Regions from separate parts of the Homo sapiens genome. Here region 2 is linked to region 1. A link means that fine-mapping ties the variant in region 1 to the expression of a gene that starts in the linked region. Tissue or cell type: whole blood. Region 1 holds a variant in brackets; the other region holds the start of a gene. All regions are shown on one strand. Distances are from middle to middle.

Region 1 (8,216 bases):
ACACTACAACTCAAATTTATCTTCTACTAAGTTGCCAGGCCAGTGTTTTTCAAGTATACACAAAATTCTTATACACTGACAAATTTAAGCTGTCACTCTGTTTTATAATAATCTAACGGTTTTGTTTCATTTCTTTACCTTTACAGGTAAATATTTTAGATTTTGTAAGCCATACAGTCTCTGTTGCAACTACTAAAATCTGTCTATGGCGAAATACACAGATACTCCATCATCCTATGTTAGCCTAAAGACCCCATGAAGAGATGTAGGCTGCTGAGCCTGGGCCACCAACCCACATCTCTCTCGGCCCCTCACTGATCACTCCCTGGTCAATGTAACATATTCCCTCAGAAATGGCACTCCTGGGGCGGGAGTGGTGGCTCACACCTGTAATCCCAACACTTTGGGAGGCTGAGGCGGGTAGATTACCTGAGGTCAGGAGTTTGAGACCAGCCTGACCAACGTGGTGAAACCCCATCTCTACTAAAAAAAATACAAAAATTAGCTGGGTGTGGTGGTGCATGCCTGTAATCTCAGCTACTCTGGAGGCTGAGGCAGGAGAATCGCTTGAACCTGGGAGGTGGAGGTTGCAGTGAGCCGAGATTGCACCACTGCACTCCAACAGGGGCAACAAGAGTGAAACTCCGTCTCAAAAAAAAAAAAGAAAGAAAGAAAGAAAAAGAAAAAGAAACAGCACTTCTCACACAGTCTTCCTCCTGGCACCATCTAGGTTCCCTCCACTTCTACCACTCACTGTCCACCTAGTCCTGCAGCTCCTAGACACCAATGCCTTTGCCTCTATTCCCCTTTAGCCACATGCCTGCAGTCCTGTTCAGTCTGTGGACCTTGGCATTATCAGAAAAAACTTTCTGCCTCTTAAATCTTAAACTTGATTATTCTCTTATCCAACTACAACTTTCTCCCTTATAGTACTTTTACTTCCTTCTCCCCAGAGACCCATTTGGCAGCTTCATCAAAACCTCCGGACCTGATGTATCAGATTCTATCCTTCTGCTACTCCTTCGCCACAAAACTAATGGTCACCCCACAAAGCAAAACCCCAACAGCCCCGTGCTCTGTGCTCACCTGTCAGCTACAGTACTACTGGAAGAGGTCATTTGATTGTGTCATCCATTGCCAATATATGTCAGCTGGACCCATAGCACCCCCTGCAACCATCTTCCACAAGTCTCTGTTGGCTCTCACCCATTCTTCACAGCAATTAAATCAAACCTTCACTGCTCTCCTAAAGCCCCACTTGTCTACTGGCGCTCAGCAAACCATTTACCCTGTTTCCCAGAGAAAACAGGCCAGCAGACAGGAAATCCCTCAAATATCTGTCCCCATTTACACACTCATGTGCATCACTACCTATCTTCATCTCCTTCATTTTCATGCTTGTGTAAGATGGGTCCTTCTTCACTTAAGTTAATCCCTCCACCTGGGATCTGAATCATCCTACCTTCCATGGGACCTTGAGCCATCAACTATTCTTCCTGCTTCTCTTTGACCCTTCCCCTTCTACTCACTCCTCTCAGCAATTTTAACCATGCTTAAGTTTTCCCCATGACCCAAAGACACACAACACCCCTCACCATCACCACTACCACACACCTTGCCAGATACTGATGTTGCTCTTTCCTTTTCTTCACAGGCAATCTTTTAATAAGTTGAATTATCTGTTTGCTTTTCTTGTATCATATTCATTCTCTAACCAACTGTAGTCTGGCTTCTACCCCCACCACTCCACTGAAATGCCCCTAGCATAGGTCACTAATGACCGGTTGGATACTAATTCCCATGGATGTTCCTTATTTCTTGATAATAAAAAGAATAATAATATGAAACATGTATATAGCATTTACTATGTGCCAGGACTGTTTTAAGTACTTTACACATATTTATTAATTTAATCCTCACGACACCCCATGGGTAGGTACTATCATTACTCCCTTTTTGCAGATGAGGAAACAAAGGTTCAGAGAAGCTCAAGTAACCTGTCCAAGTGTATTAATCTATTCTCACGCTGCCAATAAAGATATACCTGAAATTGGGTAATTTATAAAAGAGGTTTAATTGACTCACAGTTCTACATGGCTGGGGAGGCTTCACAATCATGGCGGAAGGTGAAGGAGGAGCAAAGTTATATCTTACATGGTGACAGGTAAAGAGGGCGTGTGCAAGGAAACTCTCCTTTATAAATCCATCAGATCTCATGAGACTTATGATCACAAGAACAGCATGTGAAAGACCTGTCCCCATGATTCAATTACCTCCCACCAAGTCCCTCCGACGACATGTGGGAATTATGGGAGCTACAATTCAAGATGAGATTTGGGTGGGGACACAGCCAAACCATATCACCAAGACTACACAATCTCTCTCTAAGCACTTGCCACTTTCCAGAAGGAAGCAGGGAGTCTATCTTTTCCTCCCATCTCTCTGACCTCTCTTGGTCTCTTTTTTGCTCTCTTCATCTTCTACCTTGATTTTGACATTCCCTATGATTTTGTCTTTTTGGCCCTCATCTCATGCTGTACAATCTCCTTAAGGTCATTCTGACTCATGGCTACATGCTAATGAACTCTTATCCAGGATGTACCACACACACCTCAAACTCGACAGGTCCCCAACTGAACTTGTCAACCCTAAACCTGTTCCTCCTCCCTTGTTTTCCTTCTTAATTAGAATGGTATCGGCCAGGCACAGTGGCTCACACCCTTAATCCTAGAACTTTGGGAGGCCAAGATGGGAGAATCGCTTGAGCCCAGGAGTTCGAGACCAGCTTGGGCAACATGGCGAAACTCTATCTCTACAAAAAATTTAAAAATTAGCCAGGTGTGGTGGTGTGCACCTGTAGTCTCTACTACTCAGGAGGCTGAGGTGGGAGGATCGCTCCTGCCTGGGAGTATAAGGCTGCAGTGAATTATGATTGCACCACTGCACTTCGGCTTGGGCGACAGTGCAAGACCCTGTCTTTTAAAAAAAAAAAAAGCAAAAAAAAAAAGCTATCTTCACTTATTCAGTAGATGAGGCTAGAATCTGGAAGACATTTCATTGTTTTTCCCTTTAGTTCCTGTACTCTGAGTTCCTTAAATTATTTATTTATATGTACATGGGTATATACACATATACCTTTATTCATTATCTCTCAATTCTTTGACTTGAGAATTATTCACTAATAATTCTGAATTACTCAATTATTCACTATCACTTGAATTACTCATTACCTCTCAATTCTCCTACACACTGACGTCACTCAGCTTATGCTTCCATACTACCCGTGCCCAATAGCCTTACCCATCTCTCTGCCCTTCTCTCTCTCTCCTGGATGCTCCAAAACTTTCTCTGCTCTACTGGCACTGATCTTTGCCATCATTTCACTTAAAAACTTTCAGCGGGGCCAGGCGTGGTGGCTCACGCCTGTAATCCCAGCACTTTGGGAGGCCGAGGCAGGTGGATCATGAGGTCAGGAGATCGAGACCATCCTGGCTAACAAGGTGAAACCCCGTCTCTACTAAAAATACAAAAAATTAGCCGGGCGCGGTGGTGGGCGCCTGTAGTCCCAGCTACTCGGGAGGCTGAGGCAGGAGAATGGCGTGAACCCGGGAAGCGGAGCTTGCAGTGAGCCGAGATTGCGCCACTGCAGTCCGCAGTCCGGCCTGGGCGACAGAGCGAGACTCCGTCTCAAAAAAAAAAAAAAAAAAAAACTTTCAGCGGTTCCCCAAAGCTTTAAGTATAAGTGAGAACTCTAGCATAGCCCATAAGACAATTTGCAACGTGGTCCTGCTTAAACATCCAGCCTCATCATTCAGCACTTAGTTGGAGGTGCACACATCTTGAAGAGAGAAGTTAGCTGCTCATTTTAAATATGCATGCAACCAGCTGCTACTTACCAAATCATTTTACATTCAAGTCACTTAATGCCACAAAGTCTGTTTATTTCTATAGATAATGATTTTCCTAAAATTTCCTCCTCCTTTTGGACCAAAGTGAGGAAGATTAATATTGGGAAATGCTGGTAAATTCACTTGGCAGAAGTTTACTGAGCACTCACCTCATAGAGGATGTGAGGTGTGGGAATATTAAATAGCTCTCAGGTTTTGCCTTCTAGTGAAAAAGAGATGGGTAGACAAAGCAGATGCTAACTTCCCTCTGATTTACAAATGCCCTGAGAGTACCACAATGGAGGCATCTGTTTCTGAGGTCTGGATGTGAATTAGCCGCTCTGAAGGCTAGTATGCAAAAGCCAATCACTTAGCTAGCAAACGAGCCTGGGTGAATACAAAATGGTCATATTCCAACACAACTTTCTTAAGGGTCTAAAAGAATCCCAGTTTTCATTTACATTTTAAACAACACATGGGAAATCATTTGTTAGAGTGGCATTTGCTAATTTGTACACTCTCAAATATCTCTGGTGAATACCAAAGGCCTACAATCTACTAAATAAATCAGCATGTGGTCCAAAGCAGGTGCAAGTGAGAAGCAACAGGAGGTTACCTCAGCCCAGATCAGGGAAGGATGAAGGATGCTGCATGTGTATTTGGTTTTGAATAGTGAGATCTTAAAATGGCAAAGATGGGACTGAGGGCCCTCCAGATGAACAGAATGACAACAGCTAAGATCCAGACAGGCAAATGGAAAGCACAATTGGGTAACTTCTAGAAAGCCAGCATGGTTGAAACAAACTTCGGTGGAGAAGCTTGAACTGCCTGGCTATAGTGTCTGGTGCTTCCTCCAGAGGCAAGAAGAGACCAGTGACATGAA[G/A]GGAAGGTGGGGAAATCCACACAGTCTGCAATCCCTGCCCTGTCCAACCATTCATACCTCTTCAAATAGAAATAATTCAGGTTTGAAATGTATCTGAAGAAGCATGCCAAGTTTTCAACACTTTCTGGAGCAACAAGTAAGGGTGAAAAGCTTTCACTCTGGCACAAGGCAAAGGTGACTAGCCATGACAAGCCCACTCAGAAGAGTGTGGCCAGAAATGCCCAGGGTAGGAATGATAAGTCAAGGGGAAGACAGTGCAGTGGGTTCCCACACTTGCCTCTCTTTTCAATCTGGGCTACCACAGGCTAAACATCTTCTGAGGCTTCCTGCTTCAGAAGTTCTGACCTACTTGCTGACAAGCCCAGTTACCCGACAAGGTGAAAATCATGAAGTTTCAAGTATTTTTCCCTCAATAATATTTGGGGTGGGAGGAGCTAGAGTAAAGAAGGGGAAGGGAACAAGGAAAGAAATGCAAAGCCACAGTTACCTTTCCTCGCTGCAGCCTCTTTCCTCAGTTTCCTCAATTTCTCCAAAGCCCGTAGAATGTCCACCATTCTTTTGGTATCTGCTTGTTTTTTCCTCACTTCAGATAGTACGCCATCAGCGGCTGCTTTGAGTTCCTGCTCCTGGAAGAGAAACAAAGCCCATGAGACCTCGTATTAGGAACAAACTTACAGCAGAGAATAGCTGCCCAGTGGTTAGATTTTAAAGGATCAGACAGTCTCCAGGTTAAGAGAGACTCTATTGAATCTCCATCCCAATTTCTTAGGCCTTGCACAACTCCCCTCTAGCTAAGAGGTTATCCCCCTCCACTGATGGTACAACCTTCATCTTAAAGGAGAACCTCTCCTCTCTGTATCTTCCACATAGCACTGGTTTTGTTTCTTCCTCAGTGTTTCTCAAAGTGTAGTGCAGAGATCAGGTGTCCAACTTACCTTGTTAAGCTGAGACTTGTTAAAAATGCAGATTCCCTAGACCTGAAGATTCAGATTCCCAGGAAGGATAAGGAATGTGGCTGGAAAGGCTGAGACCTCTACAAAGGTCTCTTAGTGACAACCTATGTTTGTGTTCCACTGCTCTAAAGTCCCAAGGATCTCTTCCACATGACAGCCTTTCAAATACCAAAGATTGCTGTCCTACTCTTGACTTAGTTCACATATAGACTAAATAACCCCAGTTCCTCAAGCCACTCCTCATAAGACTCTGTCACCAATATCCTCACCATGGAAGCTGGGCATAATGGCATGTGTCCCTAGCTATTCCTACTCAGGAGGCTAAGGCGAGAGGATCACTTTAAGACCAGGAGTTCAAACCTACAGGCTATGACAAACCCGCTGCACTCCAGCCTGGGCAACAGAGTGAAACTTTGTATTTTTTTTTTTTTTTTTTTTTTTTTTGAGACAGGGTCTCATTCTGTTGCCCAGGCTGGAGTGTAGTGGTGTGATCACAGCATCACCATGCCCAGTTAATTGTGTTTTTTGTAGAGACGAGGTTTCTCCATGTTGCCCAGGCTGGTCTGGAACTCCTGGGCTCAAGTAATCTGCCTGCCTCAGCCTCCCAAAATGCTGGGATTACAGGAGTGAGCCACTTCGCACCCGCCCCCAACCCTCTTTTTTTTTTTTTTTTTTTTTTTGAGATGGAGTCTCGCTGTTGTCCAGGCTGGAGGGCAATGGCGCGATCTCGGCTTACTGCAACCTCCGCCTCCTGGGTTCAAGCGATTCCCTGCTTCAGCCTCCCAATTAGCTGGGTTTACAGGCTCCTGCCACCATGCCCAGCTAATTTTTTGTATTTTTAGTAGGGACAGGGTTTCACCACGTTGGCCAGGCTGGTCCCGAACTCCTGACCTCAGGTGATCCGCCCGCCTTGGCCTCTCAAAGTGTTGGGATTACAGGCATGACCACGGCGCCCAGCCCCAACCCTGTCTCCTTAAAACAATAAAATAAATAAAATAAAAAGTTCACCATGGGTGGTGGAGAGAATCCTCTTGCCTAAAGTGCTCTCCCCCATCTGTCAAATAAGTGCCTGTAATTCCACCACTACAGCTACAGCCAACACCAAGCTGTTTCACTTCTCCATTTGGATTACTCTGTTTCCCTGGAACTGCACCTATTACCTTCACCTGGGTGACTTTTCCTTTAAGACTCAGCTTATAGCCAGGAGTGGTGGTGTGCACCTGTAATCCCAGCTACTCTGGAGGCTAAGGCAGGAGAATCGCTTGAACCTGGGAGGCAGAGGTTGCAGCGAGCCAAGACGGCATCACTGCACTTCAGTCCGGGCAACAGTGCGAGACTCTGTCTCAGAAAAAAAAAAAAAGACTCAGCTTACGTGTCATTGTATCATTTGGGAAGCATTCCCTCAGTAAATCAGATGTTCCTTCTTTGGGCTTTTACAGCACCTATAGTTGAATTCCTAACACACACCACGCTATACTGACATGATCTCCCACAGATCTCTAAGCCAGGGGTCAACAAACCCCAGGCCACGGATGGTAACCAGTCCATGGCCTGTTAGGAACCAGATCACACAGCAAAAGATGAGGCAGGCGAGCAAGTGAAGCTTCATCTCCATTTACAGCCACTCCCCCATTGCTTGCATTACCACCTGAGCTCCGCCTCCTGTCAGATCAGCAACAGCAGCATTACATTCTCATAGGAGCACAAAGAAGTGAACTGCGCATGGAAGGGATCTAGGTTGTGGGCTCCTTATGAGAATCTAAAGCCTGATGATTTGTCACTGTCTCCTATCACCCCCAGATGGGACTGTCTAGTTGCAGGAAAACAATCTCAGGGCTCTCACTGTTTCCACATTATGGTGAGTTGTATAATTATTTCATTATGTATTATAATGTAATAATAATAGAAATAATGAGGAAGAGGAAAGGGAACCCCAGAGGCAATCAAAGGTAATGAAAATGCCTTAGACGGCCAGGTGCAGTGGCTCACGCCTGTAATCCCAGCACTTTGGCAGGCTGAGGCGGGTGGATCACCTGAGGTCAGGAGTTCGAGACCAGTCTGACCAACATGGAGAAACCCTGTCTCTACTAAAAATACAAAATTAGCTGGGGTGTAGTGGTGCATGCCTGTAATCCCTGCTACTCGGGAGGCTGAGGCAGGAGAATCGCTTGAACCCGGGAGGTGGAGGTTGTGGTGAACCAAGATCATGCCATTGCACTCCAGCCTGGGCAACAAGAGCGAAACTCCATCTCAAAAAAAGAAAGAAAGAAAATGCCTTAGAAAACCATCTGAACAATTTCCAGTTTTACCCTGGCCCTGCTTAAAGAGTCTGAGATCAATACGCTTTGGAATTAGACAACTTGGGATCAAATATGGGAAACTGCCACAAACTCGTTGTGTGACTGTTGGCAAGTTAACCTCTCTATGCAACTTCCTAACCTGTAAAATTAGCATAATACTTCCTACTTCTCAAGGCTGTTATAAAGATTCAAA
Region 2 (8,000 bases), 160 kb after region 1:
CCAAGGTCCTGATACACCACACTCAGAAAATTGAGTATCTGAACCTGCAAGAACAAATCTCGAGGGAAGTCAGTCAATTTGCCTCTTTCTCCAACCTCCCACTTCCGGTACCCTGAAACGCCTGTGCACTGTGGTCACCACTTGAGATGCCCTCGACACATCATTAGGTGGGCTACCAGGACCAGGTTGGGCCAAGAGGCTCAGCCTTTGTCCCTCAACCTCCTAGGAATGATAGCAAAGGAGGAACCAAACACTGATGATTTCATCAGAGATAACGCTAAACACGTGTTGATTCTAAATACCTCCTTTAATCTATCAATGTGGTTCGTGCCATTAACTGATTGCCTAATATTGAACTAATTTTGCATTCCTGGGATGAACCCAACCTGGTCATAAGGAATTACCCTTTTTTATACATTGCTAGCTTTAAGATCCTAATACCTTGAAGATAATTTTTGCATTCATACTCATGACATTGGCCTATAATTTTCTTTCCTCTTTTTTTTTTTTTTTTTTTTTTTTTGAGACAGTCTTGCTCTGTTGCCCAGGCTGGAGTGCAGTGGGGCGATCTCGGCTCACTGCTACCTCTGCCTCCCAGGTCCCAGTTCAAGCAATTCTCCTGCCTCAGCCTCCTGAGTAGCTGGGATTACCAGCATGCACCACCATAATGGTGAGACAGGGTTTTACCATATTGTCCAGGCTGGTCTTGAACTCCTGACCTCGTGATCCACCCGCCTCAGCCTCCCAAAGTGCTGGGATTACAGGTGTGAGCCACCGCACTCGGCCTATAATTTTCTTTTTTTGTATCACCCTTATCAGATTTAGGGTCAAGGTTATGCTAGCCTCTTTTTTAATACTCTGTGTAAAACTGGGAATTACTTATTCCCTCAGTGATTGCTACAACTCACCAATGACACCAGCTACGTCCAGAGTTTTCTTTGAGGGAAAATCCTTGACTACTAATCCAACGTCTTTTTTTTTTTTTTTTTTTTTTTTGAGAGAGAGACTTGCTGTGTTGCCCAGGCTGGAGGGCAGTGGTGTGATTACAGCTCATTGCAGCCTCGACCTCTTGGACTCAAGCCATCCTCCCGCCTCAGCCTCCCAAGTAGCTGGGACTACAGGCGTGCATCACCACACTCAGCTAATTTAAAGAAATCTTTTTTGCCTAGGCTGGTCTCAAACGATCCTCTTGCCTTGCCTTCCCAAAGTCCTTGGGATTACAGGCATGAGCCACTCAGCCTTTTTCTTCTTTTTCTACAATAGTCTAGAAAAGTTCGCCCAATAACCTGGCACCCTCCAGGTTTTTTTTTTTTTTTTAATGGAGTTTCATTCTTGTTGCCCAGGCTGGACTGCAATGGCGCAATCTCGGCTCACCACAACGTCCGCCTCCCGGGTTCAAGCGATTCTCCTGTCTCAGCTTCCAGAGTAGCTGGGATTACAGGCATGCGCCACCACGCCCGGCTAACTTTTTGTATTTTTAATAGAGACGGGATTTCTCCATGTTGGTCAGGTTGGTCTTGAACTCCCAACCTCAGGTAATCTGCCCGCCTTGGCCTCCCAAAGTGCTGGGATTACAAGCATGAGCCACCGAGCCTGGCCCCTCCAAGTTTTTAACAGTGAAGAATGTTACTTGTGCAAGTCAGAATCTGATACCAATTAAATGGTGACAGCTTTGCTGGTAAACAAGAATATGCTCTTCCATGGCAAGGAAGGGAGACTGCCACACTTGACAGGTCCCAAAGATACATGGAGTTCAGTGTCTTTAATGAATATCAGCTATTGGCGATTTCAATTTTCTGCTTTTTATTGAATCGATTTTGGTAAGTTATATTTTTCTAGGCAATTCCAAACATTTGGATTATAAGGATAACTGATATCTTGAATGCTGACCCAGAGGTGAACTCTGCAAAAAAAGTGCCTGGTGAATCAGAGAAATAACAGCTTACATATGTACTGGATGTTACAGTTTATAAAAGTACTGCCCATAGATCACCTCATCTGAAGACCAATGTCTGGGCGGCTTTGGTGACTTTTTGGTGTCTAATTATTTGCAAAAGGATGGATAACTTTCTAGCTAAGCAAAACAGCTGATTCACATCAACCCTATTCCTGGCCAGGCTAGAAAATCTGTGGAGGACTATGCAACTATTCCTCACTTCAGTCCTCGGAGTCATTTGTCATTGACAGGAGAGAAGCAGCCACCAAGTGCCTTGGGAGTGAGCGTTGACATGAGGGTGTTAGCAGTGTTCTTAGCTCATGGAAACCTTCCCCAAGGCAAGGCAAGACCAAGCTGGGAATGGAAAGTCTGGCGGCTGTCATGTTTACTAATGCGGATGGAACTGCCTCTACCTGTGGTTCCACAGGGCACTTGGTCCAGGACGCAGTGGGCAGCGCCAGGACAAAGCACACTCACCAGGGCTTCAAAGTCCTTACAGTCGCCGCGGGCGTAGGACGCGGGGAAGGGCCGCAGCACCGAGTCGCGCTTGTAGCTCTGCAGGGCCGAGGCGAAGAGGCTGCACCGGAGGTCGGCGGCCAGCATGTCGCGGCCCGCCGCCTCCCTGGCGGCCGCCCAGCCTGAGGGCTGCATCCCAGGTCACTGCGCGTTGCCGGGGTAGACGCGCTGGTTAGGGGCAAGGGCGAGCGTGCGTTCAGCGCGGGGGCTGGGCCCGCGGACAATGGGCCGTCAGGGGCCGGGTTCCCAAGCCTGGGGTGGAGCTAGGCAGGGGGCTGAGATGACAGGGGTGAGAACGTGCCGACAAGTGTCCTCTGCCGGGGTCTGGGCCGCGGCTCGCCGCCGAAGAGAGAGACCGAGGCCTGGACCGCGGGTCGGCGGGGAGGTTGGGCCCAGGGATAAAGGAACTGGGGCTGGTGGGGGGGAGGGGTTCCCGGCCTAGGGGAAGGGCTATGACAATGGAATGACAACCGCGGGAACGTGCTGACACGTGTCCTCCGCGGAGGCCTGGGGCGGGAAGCAGCCCCCGGGGGACGGCGGGCAGAGCCCACTCTCCGCGACGGGCGAGGCTGCTGCGCCGCGCGCGCCTTCCTGCCCCGCCTCCCGCCGCGCCGCCGAAGTCCCGCCTCTCGCCAAGCTGCCCGCGGCGCCACCTGTCTTCCGCCTGCAGCTCACGTCCGCTTGCCTTGCCCGGCCTACCTCCCCTCCCGCCGCCGCGCTCCGCCCGGCCCAGCCGAGGGCCCGCCCCTTCGCGCCCCAGCCAGCTCCACCGTACGGGTTGTGCCCGCCCCTCCCAGACCCCGATCACCCGCAGCTACGAGAGTTGCCGCCGCCAGTGTGTGCCGGGCGACGTCGCCCACGCCCCTGCCAGCCATCCTCACAGCAGCAGCAGCCCTGGTAGAAATTGATGTGGGCACCCTCTCGACCCGCCCCTGTACTTGTCTTTGTCCCAGCTCTGCGGACTGAGCCTACCTCTCTTCCTTGGGGTATTAATGCTACCTATTGTCTCTCTTGAATCTTTTCCCTCCAAAACTGCACAGAAGGAGCCATTTAACACCCAGGGAAACTGAGGCTTAGAGTGCTGCAATGCTTGCCCAAGATCCCACAGCCAGATGGGTAAATCTAGGATTCACACCGAGATCTTTGGAAAACCAAAAGACTTTTCCTCTGCTTTTCAGCCTCCAGAATTCTCTGAATTGCTTAAGTCTCTGGCCTCAAATGCCCCAAGATCCTCCTTGGGAGACCTCTCTGACAGGGAGCTTGGGGGAGAGCAGAGGGGCATTGACTTAACTCTGCTGGAGGGTAAGGACTAGACTCCCATCCCCTCTCCCTACTCAGAACCTTCATTAGAGAAAACCCCAAAGTGTGACCTCATGGTCACATGCAAATCTAAACACAGACCATTGTGCTTAAACCAACACACCGCACACACTCCTACCCTGCAGGATCTTCTGAGGAAGAAACTTCTCCTTCTGCATCCAGGCTGTGCTGGGCCCTGGACTCAGAGGAGAGGTGGTCCCATGCCATTGGATTGCATCTATGACTTCGGGAGGTAGGGCGAAGACTGGTCCCCCAGACACCACAGAGCTTCCCATCTTCTTTTGCCAGGTAAAGGTTGGGGGCTGCTCCCAGGAGCCCACATCAAATCTGTTTGCTCTGAGGCCTAGAACCACAAGGCCCCTAGTGCTTCAAAAGCCATGGGGGTTCTCATAGGACCCAGGAACTCTAAGGTGGCTTCTGAAGCTCAGACCCCAGGAAGGGAGAGCTTGGAGTGGGTCAGGAGACCAGGGAACCATCTCTCATTCCACCTCTTCTTCATTGCAGGCCCTTAGACAAAAGCCACCCTCTGATACCTCCTTGGCCTCAAGAATTGTTTGTTGGGTGGATATATAAAATTTGCTTATCTGAAGATATTTGTCACATATGATATGAGAATCATAGTGATAATATTCACATCACAGGGTGGTGTGGAAGGGCCTCTGATGGCCAGCATTCTCATGACTTAGCTCATGCAGAATATTAGAATTCTTTTTAATTCTTGTCAATTCCATAGACACAAAGTTGAATTTCATTATAGTTTTAATTTGCATTTACTTGATAGTGAAACTGAATGTTCTTATGTTTACTTTATTCTTCTAGATTTTATCAGAATTTGCTAAGGTGGTCTCAGAACCACATTTCTTGTGGAGGGGTTTCAGCCCTGCTTATATAAATTTGATATAATCCACAGACCATACAATTCACCCATTTAAAGTGTACAATTTAATAGTTTTTAGTACATTCACAGATATGTGAAACTGTCACAATCAATTTTAGAATATTTTTATCACCTCAGAAAGGAACTCTCTACACCTAGTCTATCAATGCTCTACCCACCCTACCATGTCGCCCACTCCTAAGCAATCACCAACATGTTTGTTTTTTGTTTAAGAGACTGGGCCTCACTGTTACCTCGGCTAGAGCACAGTGGCTATTCACAAGCATGATCATAGCACATTGCAGCCTAGAACTTCTGGCCTCAAATGATCCTCCCGGCTCAGCCTCCAGAGTACCTCAGACTACAGGCTCACACCACCACACCTGGCTTAGAGAACACATTTTGTTTACTCCTGTCCTTTTAAATTCATTGAGGTTTGTCTATTGCCTAGCATATGGCCTATCCTGGAGAATGTTTCATGTGAATGTATATATTCTGCTGCTGTTAGGTCAAGTGTTCTATGGATGTCTGTTAGGTCTAGTTGATTTATATTGTTTTCAAATCTTAGATTTCCTTGTTGATCTTCTGTTTATTCTATTCATTATTGAAAGTGGGGACCAGGCACGTGGCTCACACCTGTAATCCCAGCACTTTGGGAGGCCGAAGTGGGCAAATCACCTGAGGTCAGGAGTTCGAGACCAGCCTGGCCACTATGGTTAAACCCTGTCTCTAATAAAGATACAAAAATTAGCCAGGCATAGTGGCACGTGCCTGTAGCCCCAGCTACTCGGGAGGTTGAAGCCCGAGAACTGTTTGAACCTGGGAGGCGGAGGTTGCAGTGAGTTGAGATCATGCCACTACACTCCAGCTTGGGTGACAGAGTAAGATTTCATCTCCCAAAAAAAAAAAAAAAAAAAAAAAAAAAATCACTGACAGGAAAGATATCCACCTGAACAGGTTTTTAATGCCGATGAACATGCCCTATTCTGAAAGAAGATGCCACAAAAGACACTTATTAGTAAGGAAGAAAATCGAGCACCAGGATTTAAGGCAGAAAGGGATAGGCTGACTATTGTTCTGTGCAAATTTGGTCAGGTTTATTATCAGAACTTCCCTTATCTGTAAAGCTGATAACCCCCAAGCCTTGAAGAGAAAAGATAAACACAAGCTGCCACTCTTGGTACAACAAGAAGGCCTGGACAAGAAGAACCCTTCCTCTGGATTGGTTGAATGCTTTGTCCTTGAAGTCAGGAAGTATTATATCTTGCCAGTAAGGAGCTGCCTTTTATTTATTGAGACGGAGTCTTGCTCTGTTGCCCAGGCTGGAGTGCAGTGGTGCGATCTTGATCTTGGCTCACTGTAACCTCCACCTCCCAGGTTCAAGCAATTATCCTGCCTCAGCCTCCCGAGTAGCTGGGATTACAGGTGTGTGCCGCCACGCTTCGCTAATTTTTATATTTTTAGTAGAGATGGGGTTTCATGATGTTGGCCAAGCTGGTCTCGAACTCCCAACCTCAAGTGATCCACCTGCCTCAACCTCCCAAAGTGTTGGGATTACAGGCGTGAGCCACCATGCCCGGCCAGCAGGAGCTTTTCAAGTTCTTTTGATATTGGACAATGTTCTTGGCCACCCGGAACCCCGAGTTCAACACTGAAGGTGCAAGTGGTCTACTTGCCTCTGAATAGGGACGATGTCTGTAATTCATCCTCTAGATCACGGGGTCATAAGAATCTTTAATGCTTATTACACCCAGTACTCTATGGAAGGGATCGTCAACACTATGGGAGAGGACCTCAACCAAGAGAACATCATGAACGTCTGGAAGGATTACACCATTGAAGATGTTGTAGAAAAACATGTGAAGGCCATCAAACCTGAAACAATAAATTCATGCTGGAGAAAAATTGTGTGCAGATGTTGTGCATGACTTCACGAGATTTATGACAGAGACTGTCAAGGAAATCAAGAAAGAGATTGTGGATATGCAAAAGAGATGTGTGTGGGGTGAAGGGTTCAAGATATGAATCTTGGAGAAATCCAAGGGCTACTAGATGTCACACTAGAGGAACGAATAGATGACTTGGTGGAGATGAGTGCCTTCGAACCAGTGCAAGACGATGAAGATGATGTAGAAGACGCAGTGCCGGAGAACAACTGACATTAGACAATCTGGCGGAAGTGTTCCTAGTATTCAAGACTGCTTTTACAACGTGGACCCTTCTATGACATGGGCACTGAAACTAAAGCGAGTATGCCTGCCTCCCTTCTACCTCCACCTCTTCCTCCTCTGCCACTCCTCAGACAGTAAAACCAACCTCTCCTCCCTGTCCTCAACATACCCAACGTGAAGACAATGAGGAAGACTTTTACGATGACCCACTTCCACTTAATGAATAGTAAATATATGTTCTTTTTGTTTATTTAGTGGGGTTTTTTAATAGTAAATATATATATATATATATATTTTGAGACAAGGTCTCACTCTGTCACCAGGCTGGAGTACAGTGGTGTGACCTCACTGCAACCTCTGCCTCCCAGGTTCAAGCAATTCTCGTGCCTCAGCCTCCTGAGTAGCTAGGACTATATAGATGCATGATGCCATCCCCAGCAATTTTTTTTTCTTTCTTCTTTTTCTTTTTCAGTAGAGACAAAATCTTGAACAGGCTGGTGTTGAACTCCTGGCCTCAAGTGGTCCTTCTGCCTTGGCCTCCCAAAGTGCTGGGTTTACAGGTGTTAGCCACCATGCCCAGCCTATTTTCTCTTCTTCTTTAATAACATTTTCCTTCCTCTACCTCATTGTAGTAAGAATACAGTATATAATACGTTTAACACACATAATATGTGTTAATCAACTGTTATCTGTAAGGCTGTCGGTCAACAGTAGACTATTTGTAGTTAAGTTTAGGGGGAGTCAAAAGTTATATGCATCAGCATGGTGGCACATGCCTGTAATCTCAGCACTTTCGGAGGCCGAGGCGGGCGGATCACTTGAGGCCAGGAGTTCTAGACCAGCCTGGCCAAAATGGCAAAACCCCGTCTTTACTAAAAATACAAGAATTAGCTGGGCGTGGTGGCACATGCCTGTAGTCCCAGCTACTCAGGAGGCTGAGGCAGGAGAATCGCTTGAGCCTAGGAGGCGGAGGTTGCAGTGAGCCGAGATCAAGCCATTGCACTCCAGCTTGGACCACGGTGAGACCCCATCTCCCCACCAAAAAAAAAAAAAAGTTACATGCAAATTTTCAACTGCGAGAGGGGTCGGCAACTCTAACCCCCCATGTTGTTCAAGGGTCAACTGTATATCTGTTGTTTTTTTCTTTTTTGAGATGGAGTCTCGCTCTGTCACCAGGCTG

What was found. PIP is the estimated chance that this variant, and not a neighbour inherited with it, causes the effect.
Region 2: it holds the start of PARP16, and the variant in region 1 is fine-mapped to the expression of PARP16 in whole blood (TOPMed, PIP above 0.99).

The regions. Positions count from the first base shown.
Region 1 is chr15:65,123,775-65,131,990 of GRCh38, forward strand. PDCD7 (programmed cell death 7) reads right to left here. Exons shown (of 5, transcript NM_005707.2): 2 at 5,258-5,396. Among named protein-coding and RNA genes, the nearest start is that of PDCD7, 5.9 kb to the right of the region's middle. The variant G/A (reference allele first, on the strand shown) is at 4,771.
Region 2 is chr15:65,283,840-65,291,839 of GRCh38, forward strand. PARP16 (poly(ADP-ribose) polymerase family member 16) reads right to left here and starts at 3,044. Exons shown (of 6, transcript NM_001316943.2): 1 at 2,414-3,044. The coding sequence starts at 2,587. SNORA24B (small nucleolar RNA, H/ACA box 24B) reads right to left here and starts at 1,752; the gene lies at 1,622-1,752. RefSeq lists a silencer at 2,729-3,288 and an enhancer at 3,439-3,488.